Regions from separate parts of the Homo sapiens genome. Here regions 1 and 3 are each linked to region 2. Evidence: fine-mapped expression QTL. A gene starts in region 2. Each other region holds a variant in brackets. All regions are shown on one strand. Distances are from middle to middle. Region 1 has its middle 2.9 kb from the start of LINC01988. Region 2 holds the start of ZNF197 (zinc finger protein 197). Region 3 has its middle 22 kb from the start of ZKSCAN7.

Region 1 (4,240 bases), 200 kb before region 2:
ACTCATCTCTACAAATAATAATAATAATAAGAAGAAGAATACAAATAAATTAGCTAGGTGTGGTGGCATCCACCTGTGGTCCTAGCTACTCAGGAGGCTGAGGTGGGAGAATCGCTTGAGCCTGGGGTGGTCAAGGCTGCAGTGAGCTGAGATTGTACCACTACGCTCCATCCAGCCTGGATGTCAGAGGGAGACCTTGTCTCTAAATAAATTAATAAATAAATAATAAATAAATGGGTGTTGTATCAAGCAGCCACACCTGTGGTCATTTGTAAGAATAAGTCATTTCCTGGTCAGGCGCAGTGGCTCACACCTGTAATCCCAGCACTTTGGGAGGCCAAGGCGGGTGGATCATGAGGTCAGGAGATTGAGACCATCCTGACTAACACGGTGAAACCTGTCTCTACTAAAAAAAAAACAAAAAAATTAGCCTGGCTTGGTGGCGGGGGCCTGTAGTCCCAGTTACTTGGGAGGCTGAGGCAGCAGAATGGCGTGAACCTGGGAGGCGGAGCTGGCAGTGAGGCGAGATCACGCCACTGCACTCCAGCCTGGGTGACAGAGTGAGACTCCGTCTCAAAAAAAAAAAAAAAAAGTCATTCATTTCCCATTCTTACAAATGGCCACAAAAGGAAACGCCTATGCCATGTGAACACGTTCTCAGAATAAGTACAGGAGGCAGCCTGCAAGTCTGGGCGACTCTTCCTACTTTCTTTCCATCAAATTCCTTCACCTTCTTTAGAACAGACACAATGACTGTCAATCCTGAGAAACTTCAAGGTGCGCTACCTAGAATATCAACCAGCTCAACCAGAAGCTGATCCTGACACCTGTGTCCTACAGGAAGTTCTGATTTGCTCAGGTGGAGAGGATTTCCCCAGCATCCCCTGGTGGCCACAAGGCCATGGGGGAGTCAGCACAACCTGCAGAGATCCCCTGGTTCAGGGTGGGTGGAAACAGGGGGTTCGGGGGCTGAACAGTTAGAGGCTGGCCAGGAGCTAGGGAACTGGATAGGTATGAAGGGTTTGAAGCTTACCTGTCGGAAGGTTCTGGGGTGGAGGAGTCTGTGGAGGGAGCTTCAGAGAGCAGGAGGGGCATTAGAAGGCTGGGGCCCCTGCAATCTAATCTTTGTTGTGTAATGCGTTTCCCGCCCTATCCCAGCCTAGCTTCTGCCTGGTGATCTCAGACCCCTGCAGGGCAGCTCCCCACTCACCCCTGCACCATCCTCGCTGTCACAGTGCCTGATGCCCCAAAACTGGAAGTGTGCCTGCCATTGCCTTTCCCTGCCTGGTTTCCAGCAGTCCCATCACATGGCTCCAAAAAACAGCATCGGGGTTTTTTTCTAGAACCCAAATTTATAAACAAGGGGCAATGTCCTCTGACAAGGTTGGTTTGTGCTCAGTATAATGGTAGCCAGGGCTACCTGGATCAGGAACATCTTGTGATCCCCTCCCTACTCCCCTGGGTCTGGCTTGCTGGGCCTCACACCCTCTTCACACCCTGGTCTCCCTGAGAATTAGATGCAGCTCCCCATGTCACCAGCTGCTTACTGGGACTGCCCAGCCCAGGCCCACCTTGAATCCTCACCACGTTCCCCACTCTATGGACCCAGCGGCTGCTGTGTGTCCCATGGAGCCAGCCCATGGTGCTGGCAGAAGATGGAACAGTCGTCCTCCTGGGCTGGCCCCAGGTCACCCAAGCAGGCTTTTCTCCTCTCCTCACCTGCCTGATGGTGCCCACCCGATGTGGGGCAGTCCACAGGGCTGCTGGAGCTTAGTGAGAAATGAATCCCTTCCCAGCCCCCAGGGGCTTGCCCAGCAGCCTTTCCCCATTGGTGCTAGTAGCCTTGGGCCTTCCCAGAGACTGCTGCAGGCCTGTCCGTAGCATGAGGCCATTGCTAAGGTGAAGGAGAAGCCTCTGTCCCCTCTTCCCTCCCTGGCTCAGCTCACCTGCTCTGGCAGTGTGCTTGGTGAGGCCAGGTGTGCTTCCTCCCTTCCTCCCCAGGGCCTCTCCACCTCGGTCCACACAGGGGCAGTTTCCCCAGGAAACTCTAACTCATTCCATTACCTTCCCCCAGCTGATCTTGGAAACCCCCTTGCTGTGAATATTGGCAAGCTTAAGAGCTTATTGCCCCCACCATGGCGTCCAGCTCTTGATCAGTGTGCTTTGAGGGCTTTGTCTTCCAAGCCTTGGACAACCCTGAATGCTGGTTAGTCTTTGGCTGGCTCCAAGACGCAGTGTCACACAAGTACCACCCTGTGGACACGCTGAAGTTCCCATGGAGTCTTTTCTATCGAAAACTCAGCCTCTTTCAGGCCAAACACCGGCTCCCTTCATGTGCATAGCTTTCTAACTGGTACAATTTCCCCAAAGATAATTTAGAATTATAGTGATCACTTTGGGGAAACTCTGATATATACAAAACAAAAACAAAGCAAAATTCTGAATATCCAATGGTCTGCTGTCTTTAATTGGTATGAGGAGGCTCCTAAACACAATTTGGACTCAAAAAATGCTTCTCTAAAATATTCTTTAGCTATAACTAATATGAAATAG[G/T]AGCATCTTTTCCCTCATGTGCATCTTTTTTTTCTTTTTTCTTTTCTTTTTTTTTTTTTTGAGATGGAGTCTCACTCTGTTGCCCAGGCTGGAGTGCAATGGCACCATCTCAGCTCACTGCAAACTCCTTCTCCCAGGTTCAAGTGATTCTCCCGCCTCAGCCTCCTGAGTAGCTGGGATTACAGGCCTGTGCTACCACGCCCAACTAATTTTTGTATTTTTAGTAGAGATGGAGTTTCACGATGTTGGCTAGGCTGGTCTCAAACTTCTGACTTCAAGTGATCCACCCACCTCAGCCTCCCAAAGTGCTAGGATTACAGGCATGAGCCACCGTGCCCGACCAAGCATCTTTAAAATGTTGACATTTCCAATGCCCTTGCCACATTTTGTGAAAGGCTTCAGGTCCAAAACTGTCACTATGTTGGGTAAACAAAAATGTTGGCTGGCAAATCACTCTATTGCATAAACATCAATATTTGGCTAAACATTTTTTTTTTTTTGAGATGGAGTCTCGCTCTGTCACCCAGGCTGGAGTGCAGTGGCGTGATCTCAGCTCACTGCAAGCTCTGCCTCCCCGGGTTCACACCATTCTCCTGCCTCAGCCTCCCAAGTAGCTGGGGTTACATGCGCCCGCCACCATGCCCGGCTAATTTTTTTTGTATTTTTAGCTAAGACAGGGCTTTACCATGTTACCCAGGATGGTCTTGATCTTCTGACCTCATGATCCACCGGCCTTGGCCTCCCAAAGTGCTGGGATTACAGGCATGAGCCACTGCACCTGGGCTTGGCTAAACATTTTAAGGAGACTCTGGATATCAAGAATAAAAGACCCCTCATGAGGAAAATCTTTGTCTTGTTTGCCTAAATGACAGATCATTTTGTTTCACAGGGAGGCATCACTTCCTTCCTTTCCATAAGTTGGAGATTAATACATTCTGGCTTTTAAAAAATTGTATGGCTTGATAGAATTGTCACAAACTGAAATTATGTCAAAACCAGATATAGGACACTCTCGTGTGTGTATTGTATATATGTCTAAACTTTCATCCCTCTTCTTACAGAGAAAAATGATTAGTTATTTGTCTAAAGCCAGCTCCCTCTCATTTTTTTTCTATCCCATTTCCTCTCCTTTTCCCTCTTTTGAAAACTTAACAAAATGAAAGACTTAACAAAAATTACATTCAGCCGTTATGCATATATTCTAGGAATTTTTAGTTCAGGTAAAGTCTAAATTGTCTAAAGAAAAAAGTTATTGAACTATTTTTTATGGACACTAGAAAATGTATTTCCCTGATAACCTTTTAAACTAGCTATGACAAAAGAAAAGACGCCAACTTCAAAATAAAGGAAAATGTTAGCATGATTCACTCCTTATTAGTTTATTTTTTTAAAAAATGTTAGTACAATATTTTGGCTTATTCCAGACCAAAATTAGATTTCTTATAATTCAAACTTCCTAAATTTCCTACATTAATTTTATTTATTTATTTATTTTTGAGATGGAGCCTCACTCTGTCCCCAGGCTGGAGTGCAGTGGCACAATCTCGGCTCACAGCAACCTCCACCTCTCAGGTTCAAGCGATTCTCCTGTCTCAGCCTCCCGAGTAGCTGGGATTACAGGTGTGTGCCACCATGCCCAGCTAATTTTTTGTATTTTTAGTAGAGATGGGTTTTCACCATGTTGGCC
Region 2 (4,240 bases):
AGAAAAGAAAGTTGGCCGGCACAGTGGCTCACACCTGTAATCCTAGCACTTTGGAAGGCCGAGGCGGGTGGATTGCCTGAGCTCAGGAGTTTGAGACCAGCCTGGGCAACACGGTGAAACCCCATCTCTACTAAAATACAAAAAATTAGCCAGGCATGGTGGCGTGCGCTTGTAATCCCAGCTACTCAGGAATCTGAGACAGGAGAATCATTTGAACCCGGGAGGCGGAGGTTGCAGTGAGCGAGATCGCGCCACTGCACTCCAGCCTGGGCGACAGAGTGAGACTCCATCTCAAAAAAAAAAAAAAAAAAAAGAAAGAAAGAAAGAAAAGAAAGTTTTATTCACAACATCAGTTTACAAACTCGGAGAGATAGTCTCTGGCTTGAACTGAAAGTGGTGCTCTCTCTGAAGAACAAAGAGAAGGTTAGAGGTTTTACAAAAAGGAGGAATGTTACATATTGCTCTTTGAGAAAGTTCATTGGCAGTAGTAAGGGTGTGGGGAGCTGACAAGCTCCAGTTGGTGAGCAACTGCGGTGGGCAAAATTAGTCCTAGAGTTGCAGCAACTTATCTCAGAAGCTATAGATAAAACTGGTTTTGGCTTATAATAAGCAGTTTCAGCAGTCAAGCTTACAGAGAATAACATTCCTGGAGCAATGTTGTGTACCCTGAGTGCTTCCCCCAGCTAATTTCTCGACTTTCTTTTATTAGGTATGACAAAAATGACCCAATTCTTATGATCAGCTTTCACATTTCTTAGCATTTACCACCACCTGACACATTTTTATATTTGTTTTCTGTTTATCCCACTAGAAATGTAAGCCCCATGAGAACAGAGACTTTACCTCTTTATCTATGTCCCTAGTGCCCAGAACAGTATTTGGCATATGGCAAGTACTCAGTAGTTGAATGAATGAATGAATCAAGGCTGAAGTTTAAGTATGTTGTTTAATGAATGCCAGGAGAGAACATAAAGAAATAAACAGAATAAGCCTGGCACGGTGGCTCACGCCTGTGATTCCAACACTTTAGAAGGCCAAGGTGGGGGTGGATCACCTGAGGTCAGGAGTTCAAGACCAGCCTGGCCAACATTGTGAAACCCCGTCTCTACTAAAAAAAAAAAAAAAAAAAAAAAATAGCCAGGCATGGTGGCACGTGCCTGTAATCCCAGCTGCTCAGGAGGCTGAGGCAGAAGAATCGCTTGAACCCGGGAGGTGGAGATTGCAGTGAGCCAAGATTGCGCCACTGCACTCCAGCCTGGGCAACAAGAGCAAAACTCCATCTCAAAAAAAAAAAAAAGACATAAACAGAATAACATGAACCTTGCTCATTGAATAAACATTCATCTACAACCTATATGGCTTCAGCTTTGTACTAGGTGCTAAATACATGGGATCCATGCAGACATGGCCTTTGCCCTTTTGGAGACTTGTTTCAGCCATAGTCCCATATAGGGGTGTCAGTTCCAGAAGTCCAAACTTAAGAGACTGAAGACCAAAGAGAGGATCAGAGTGCCAGTTTCCTTTATATACACCTGACTTTACCCAGGGCGATGGACAGCTAGAATAACCTCTTCTTTCAGGGGAGAGATGTCCCTACCATTTGCACATTACCTTGCACCATCAACTTGATTATTATTTAATATCATAGCTCCAATATGTCATCATGTGGGCAAGAGATACACCACAGTAAGCGAATTCACAAGAGGGTGATTTATAAGTCATGTTATTATTTATAGTGAGAATTGCATAAGTTCAAGAAGAGACCAGAAAAGTCACCTACCAGGTCATTCAGACGTGAAGGTCACTCCCTATCAACCTCAATTGAAATGCAAATCAAAATAGAAATGTCCAACTCTCTTAGGAGGCAACAGGCATCCTGAGACCCTGGGTCCTGTCTTTCATCTCTGCACCCTTCCGGTCTGAAACAGCGGCCAGTTCTTGTTCGATGTAAGGAACACTAGTACCCAAGGGCTCAGGAGTTCCGCCTCTCTTCCCCAGTTCTGGGAAAAGAAACGAACCATAGAGATGTGGCTTCCTAGAGATCCGGGATGAGGGGCGGGGTGCAACCGGAAGTCGCAGTATTCTCGGCTCGGCCATTATTCTGTGCCTCGGCTGCCGGAAGGGCTCGTTCCTGTGTCATCTCCTAGCGGCCTGGCGCCGAGGCGGCGGTACGCAAGGCTGGAGCCGCAGCGGGAGCCCCCGGTGAGCGGGGTGGGCTCGGGGGCGGGTGGGCGTGCAGGGAAGGCGGCCCGGGACGCGGGCCTGAGCTTGCTGGGACTGCACAGCCCTCGGTAGCCTCTCCCGGGCCCTGACCCCCGGCATGGTCCGTCGCCAGCTTCGTGTTGGGGTTCGACGTCGTGGCCTCGGCTGGGCAGGCAGCCGGCCCGAGGGAAGTACTGAGGACAGCAGCTCCGAGTCTGTGTGTGTTTGTGGACCGGTGCTCCTGTCTAACGGACTCTGCTGGCGCTTTGAGAAGAGCTGCCTCAGTAGCCTGCTCCCCCAGCTCAGGCCTTTCTGCTCTTCCTCAGTCTTGTCTGAGGCTAATCCACAGAAACATTCTGAGGTTTCCCTATTACCGGTGGCGCCCAGACTCTTGAGGACGGATTTTTTTGTTTGTTTGTTTTAAGGGGTGGAACGATTTTAGCTTTTTTAGTCTTTTAGTTTTGTAATATAATGGTATTTAAAAATCAAACTTGAAAAACTCAAACTTGAAACCACCCATACCAACATTACTTCAGGCAATACATTTTAACACAAAGTACTAAGACCGTAAACTCAGAATAAATGCTGGCCTTTGCGCGCGCGCGCGCACACACACACACACACACACACACACACACACACACTCATTGCCAACCTGTCAGCGACGATTGTTACTGGTTTTCTCTTTTTGCAGCTTACCAGATTAAAGCTTTGTCGTGGACTGGTGTTTGGAAACTGTTGTTTTAGAACAGTTTGGGTTGTTTGGGTTTCATAAGTTTCTTCGTAGATGGAATTGTTTTGGACTTCTGGAATTAGAATCCCTGAATTCAGAATTTGCTCCCATGTCTCAGTTAGCTAAGTGGCCTTGAGTGGATTCGCTCCTCTGATCCTTTTGTTTTTTTTAACTTCTGCTTTGAAAACCTTTTGTGAGAAGCTAATAAAATGTATGTTTAAGAATTTGTTATTTTTATGTTATTTGAAAATTATTCAAAATTCTTTTTAAAAATTCCTTTCCATCACCCCCAGATCAGTTACCAAGGACTACCAAGTTTTTCTCAATTGCCTTATCCCTACTTCGTTTAGAACTTAAGTCATGTGTTTAGACTATTAGAAAAACCTAACTGACCTTTCTTGATATCCAGCCCTCCCACCCCCACCATTTCTCACTAATAGAGTCCTGACACCACTTAAGACTCTCTTCATGCTCAGAGTGAAAAAGGTCTTTCTAATTGTGGTACAGTACCCAGAAGTCGTAAAAGATTGACTGCATGGCAAAAAACACTTTAAGCAAAGTCACATGGCATATATAGTCACAAAGACACTTGACAAACTGAGAAAAATTTGCAGCTGCCATTGTAAACAAAGGACTAATTTTCCTGTGATAAAAGTGTGTACAAATTAACAAGACCCAACACCTCAATGGAAACATGGGCAAAATATATGAATAGTTACTTTAAAAAATATACAAATGACTCTATATTAATTCGTTCAAAATGCAAGTCAAAAATTTGGCGAAGAGCACAAACTTTGAGAAACATATTGGTGAAAGTGAGGAAAGGCACTCCCATACAGCTGTTTCTGATGGGAGTATAAATTATAAATTGGTTCAATCCTAGTGAGGTCAAATTGGCAATATCAAAATTATACATGTATATACCTTTTAACTCAGCAATTCTGATTCAAGGAATTTTTCTTATATATGCCTACACACATCCAAACTGATGTATGCCCAAGATTATTCATGATTATATTGTTGGTAATAAGAAATGATTGAAAACTACCCAAACATTCCATCAGTGCTGGCATGAATAAATTATGATACATCTATGCATCCATAAAAATGCGGAGAGGGGCTGTGTATTGACAGGAAAGATCTCTAAGACATATTATTGAGAAGAGGAAAATGTACCACGTCATTCATGGTGTCCTACCATTTGTGAAAAAAAGGGAACTAGAAAACAATATATGTACACACATATGCAGAAATAACTGGAAAGATAGATAAGAAGCTAACGGAGAAGGAAACTTTACACAGTAT
Region 3 (4,240 bases), 92 kb before region 2:
CTACGGGTGTAAGCCTTCTAAGTCTCCCTGTTTCTGGTTTTTCCACTCAATTTTTACTGCACCAAAGAGCAGACAAGGAGGAATATAGGAGAGAAAGCATGGGCCATAAAAGACACTAATATAGTGTTACAAAGTCCAAGTCTATCCTTAATCACAATGTATACAAACATGTTATGTTTCCTCATTAAAAGGAAGGAGGGAGACAGAGAAGGGAGGAGACTTTTTACAAGAGATTTACCTACAATAAAACCAAACAATAGAAAAGGTTGAAAAGAAAGGAAGGAAAAAGGGTACACCAAGCAAGTTCTAACAACAAGAGAAAAAGCTGTGTAGAATTATTAATATGAGACAAAACAGACTCTAAGGCTAAGCATTTAATGGGCATAGAATGGAATATTTCATATTGATAAAAAACCAATAATCAATCCCTAAGTTGTCGAACAATGTCCAAGTCAGGAAACCTAGAAGTTACTCTTTTTTTCTTTTTTTTTGAGATGGAGTTTCCCTCTTGTTGCCCAGGCTAGAGTGCAATGGCACAATCTCGGCTCACTGCAACCTCCTCTGCCTCCTGAGTTCAAGCGATTCTCCTGTCTCAGCCTCCCAAGTAACTGGGATTACAGGCATACACCACCATGCCTGGCTAATTTTGTATTTTTAGTAGAGACAAGGTTTCACCATGTTGGCCAGGCTGGTCTCAAACTCCTGACCTCAAGTGATCCATCTGCCTCAGCCTCCCAAAGTGCTGGGATTACAGGCATGAACCACCACGCCCAGTCTAGAAGTTGCTCTTAATTCTCCACCCTCTCACATCTAAAACATCAGCAAGTCCAGTTTATTCTTCTTCCAAAATGCATTGTAAATCCACCCATTTCTTTCCATCTCCACAGCACATCATCCCTAGTCCTGGCCACCATCTTCTCTCAAATGTAGTCCTGCAATGGTGCTCTAACTGGCCTCCTGACACTGAAATTAATCTCCCCCAAGCAACTTCAAATTGGTTAACCTGGCCAACATGGTCTTCCGCAGGCAGGCCTCTGCCCAACTCTGACTGCACCTCTGACACTGTGACTCTCATCCAGGCACAGTGGCCTCCCTTCTGTCACCTGATCAGCCCAATCAGTTACATCTTGAGCCTTTGCAGCAACTTTTCCCACTGCATAGAATGCTCCTTTCTCACACCTTCAGGGGTATAGCAGTCCTTTAAAATTCATCTGTTAGTTTAAATGGCACCCCCTAAGAAAGGAGGGTGAAGTTTTTCAATACTTGTTAATATAGGAGCATAAGAATTACTGTAATTATCTTTCAACCTATTTGTTACCTTTATAAATAAACTTCTTATGACATAGACTACTAACACTAATCTGTGAAATGTTGAATTATGATGAAAACAGAGAACTGAGAGGCTGGGCACGGTGGCTCGTGCCTGTAATCCCAGCACTTTGGGAGGCTGAGGCAGGAGGATTACTTGAGGCCAGAAGTTTGAGACCAGCCTGGGCAACATAGTGAGACCCCTGTCTCTACAAAAAAACAATATAAAAATCAGCTGGACGTGGTGACACACACCTATAGTCCCAGCTACTCAGAAAGCTGAGGAGGGAAGACAGCTTGAGCCCAGGAGGTCAAGGATGCAGTGAGCTATGATCACACCACTTCACTCCAGCCTGGGCGACAGAGTGAGACCCTGTCTCAGAGACAGCGAGAGCAAATGGGGGTAGGGGGGAACACTAAGGATTCTCCTTCAAATAGTCCAATTTATTTCTTTTTTGTTTTTTTGAGACGGAGTCTTGCTCTGTCGCCCTGGCTGGAGTGCAGTGGTGCGATCTCGGCTCACTGCAACCTCCGCCTTCAGCGTTCAAGCAATTCTCCTGCCTCAGCCTCCCAAGTAGCTGGGATTACAGGCGTGCGCCACCACACCCGGCTAAATTTTGTATAAAACAAGTACCATCCACTAGATGGCGCTTCTAGCCTGTTCTATCCTGTTCTTGACTCTTTTCAGGACCCT[G/A]GACAGTGCCTGGTGTACAGCAACCGTTCCGTAACTATTGAATGATTTGTCATAAACTTACATGCACCCTGAACCTATCAGCACAGCTTTAAAATATATAAGGCAAATGGGTCTACAAAAAGAAAGAGACGAGTGTGAAGCCAACCCACACCCCTTAGAAACATACTAGGGAAACCCAAAACAACAAAGAACTTTTTAAATGCAAAAGTAGAATGACTGCTTTTACCCTCTGTATTTCTGAATTATTTTTTCAGGATTAATATGTATTACTTTGATAAATGAGATTAAATTTTTCTTCATGTTCCCTTCTCAAATTGTAAAGTCTTTTACTATGGTTCTAAGGAGCTGGTCAAACCTGTTCAGGGGTGTTAAGTGCACACCAAGATGGAAGGTGACAGGAAGGTGTATAACATTAGGATTATATTTAGGTTTATTCTTTTTTTTTTTTTTAGACGGAGTGTTGCTCTGTCACCCAGGCTGGAGTGCAGTGGCATGATCTCAGCTCACTGCAATCTCCACCTCCCAGGTTCAAGTGATTCTCCTGCCTCGGCCTCCCAAGTAGCTGGGATTATAAGCCTGCACCTCCACGCCCAGCTAATTTTTGTACTTTCAGTAGAGACGAGGTTACACCATGTTGGCCAGGCTGGTCTCAAATGCCTGACCTCAGGTGATCTGCCAACCTTGACCTCCCAAAATGCTGGGATTACAAGTGTGAGCCACCACGCCCAGCCTGTTTAGAGTTATTCTAAAAATCATAACTTCTTGGAATTAAAAAAGTTCTATACATGGCTAGTAACCCCTTCTGCAGCTGAAACTGACTACAAGTCCCCTTCTGTCACCCAGAGTGACCAGAATTGTGTTCTGTGAGGGGCAGGGTTCACTGGATAGCATGAGGTGACGTGCCAGGCTGAATTCTCTCCCTGCAGTGGAGGCTACTCTACAATAAAGTGAAAGGAAGATCTGACCTAATGCCCTGCAGAGCTTCATTTCTCCCACCATCTGGTTTTGTAAGGAAAAAAAGTATGTGCTTCTATGTATTTTTTTTAGCACTACTCCTTAATTTAAATGTCTATTTAAAAAAGACCAAAGCTTAACTGGTTATCTTTGAAATATAATTTCTTTTTATTTTCTTCTTTTACTTCTTTATATTTTCTTATATTTCTACAATCATAAGTACAAATTAGGTGGCAAAGAAATGATATAAAAGAAGCATGGTATCTGCCAAATCAAATTCTCTGGATGAGCTAATGCCCACCCAAGTGGCAAGTTGAGGAAAGGAGGGTGCTGTTGACTTACGGTCCATTTCTAATCTGTCCTGAGCGTTGGTAAGGCCAGGGGCTGGACAGTGGGCTATTGGAGAGGACTCCAGTCTCAGGCCAATGTACTCGGTACTTCCATCAGGAGGGTATGTGGCAGCTGGCCCTTCCATCCACAGTATCTTTTGGGCAGCTATACTGATCACTGTGGGAAAGAGAGTTTCTGCGGTGCCAGCTGAGTTGGTCTTCCCTGTGTGAGACACCCAAGGGGAGCCATGGGCGGCCTCTGAGGAGAAAAGTCTTCTTATTGCCTTCATGTCTTTATGCCCCGACAGCATAACCACTCAGCAGAATTCCACAGTTGCTCAAGGAGGTAACACTCCCTTGAAGCAGTGGAGTATAATCAAACATCTTGGCCCCTCCTGAAAGCCACTCCCACCCATTTCAGTCCCGATAAGTTAAAGATCTTAAGTAGTTTAGACACATGCCTTTGCTCAAGGAAATTCACAGAAACCACCACAGCTACACATATTATTGAATGACTCATGAGTTCTCCTTCACTGATTAATCCTTTTCCTCATCCCTTCCTACCCCTCCCATCTGCCCTAAGAACAAAGAGCTTGTAAACCAATAAATCAGGCAGAGCCTGGGCTGTGAGCAAGCCTCCGATGCTCAGGTCCCCTGGACCTGCTTTTTAAACGCTTATTCTGTCTCTTTCTAACTCCTTTGTCTCCGCTGGACTCAGGGTAGCAGGTGGTGTGGGGCTGGTTTCCCCAAACAATCACTGTAACAGATAAGGCAACATAAATACACTTTCTCATAACTTGTCATCTGCACTAGATTTAACAGCAGCACCAGTGATTCTGCAGTGCCCTCCAGGCACTGGAGCAGGATGACTTTAGGCATTTCTACAAACCCAAAACCTCCTTTCCTTTGTTGCCTCTCTTGACTCCACCCAGGGGTGCTTCTGTTTGAGGACTCA

What was found. PIP is the estimated chance that this variant, and not a neighbour inherited with it, causes the effect.
Region 1: its variant is fine-mapped to the expression of ZNF197 in whole blood (INTERVAL, PIP 0.96).
Region 3: its variant is fine-mapped to the expression of ZNF197 in whole blood (TOPMed, PIP 0.97).

Annotation. Positions count from the first base shown.
Region 1 is chr3:44,422,930-44,427,169 of GRCh38, forward strand. It overlaps the pseudogene C3orf86P. Among named protein-coding and RNA genes, the nearest start is that of LINC01988, 2.9 kb to the right of the region's middle. RefSeq lists an enhancer at 1,915-2,054. The variant G/T (reference allele first, on the strand shown) is at 2,554.
Region 2 is chr3:44,622,942-44,627,181 of GRCh38, forward strand. It overlaps ZNF197 (zinc finger protein 197), which reads left to right and starts at 2,095. Exons shown (of 6, transcript NM_006991.5): 1 at 2,095-2,202. All of the region lies in intron 2 of ZNF660-ZNF197 (ZNF660-ZNF197 readthrough), which reads left to right. The region is part of intron 2 of ZKSCAN7-AS1 (ZKSCAN7 ZNF cluster antisense RNA 1); the gene reads right to left. ZNF197-AS1 (ZNF197 antisense RNA 1) reads right to left here and starts at 1,856. Exons shown (of 2, transcript NR_046658.1): 1 at 1,781-1,856. RefSeq lists a silencer at 2,099-2,448 and an enhancer at 2,428-2,930.
Region 3 is chr3:44,531,025-44,535,264 of GRCh38, forward strand. No RefSeq gene overlaps it. Among named protein-coding and RNA genes, the nearest start is that of ZKSCAN7, 22 kb to the right of the region's middle. RefSeq lists silencers at 1,833-1,961, 1,853-2,147. The variant G/A (reference allele first, on the strand shown) is at 2,003.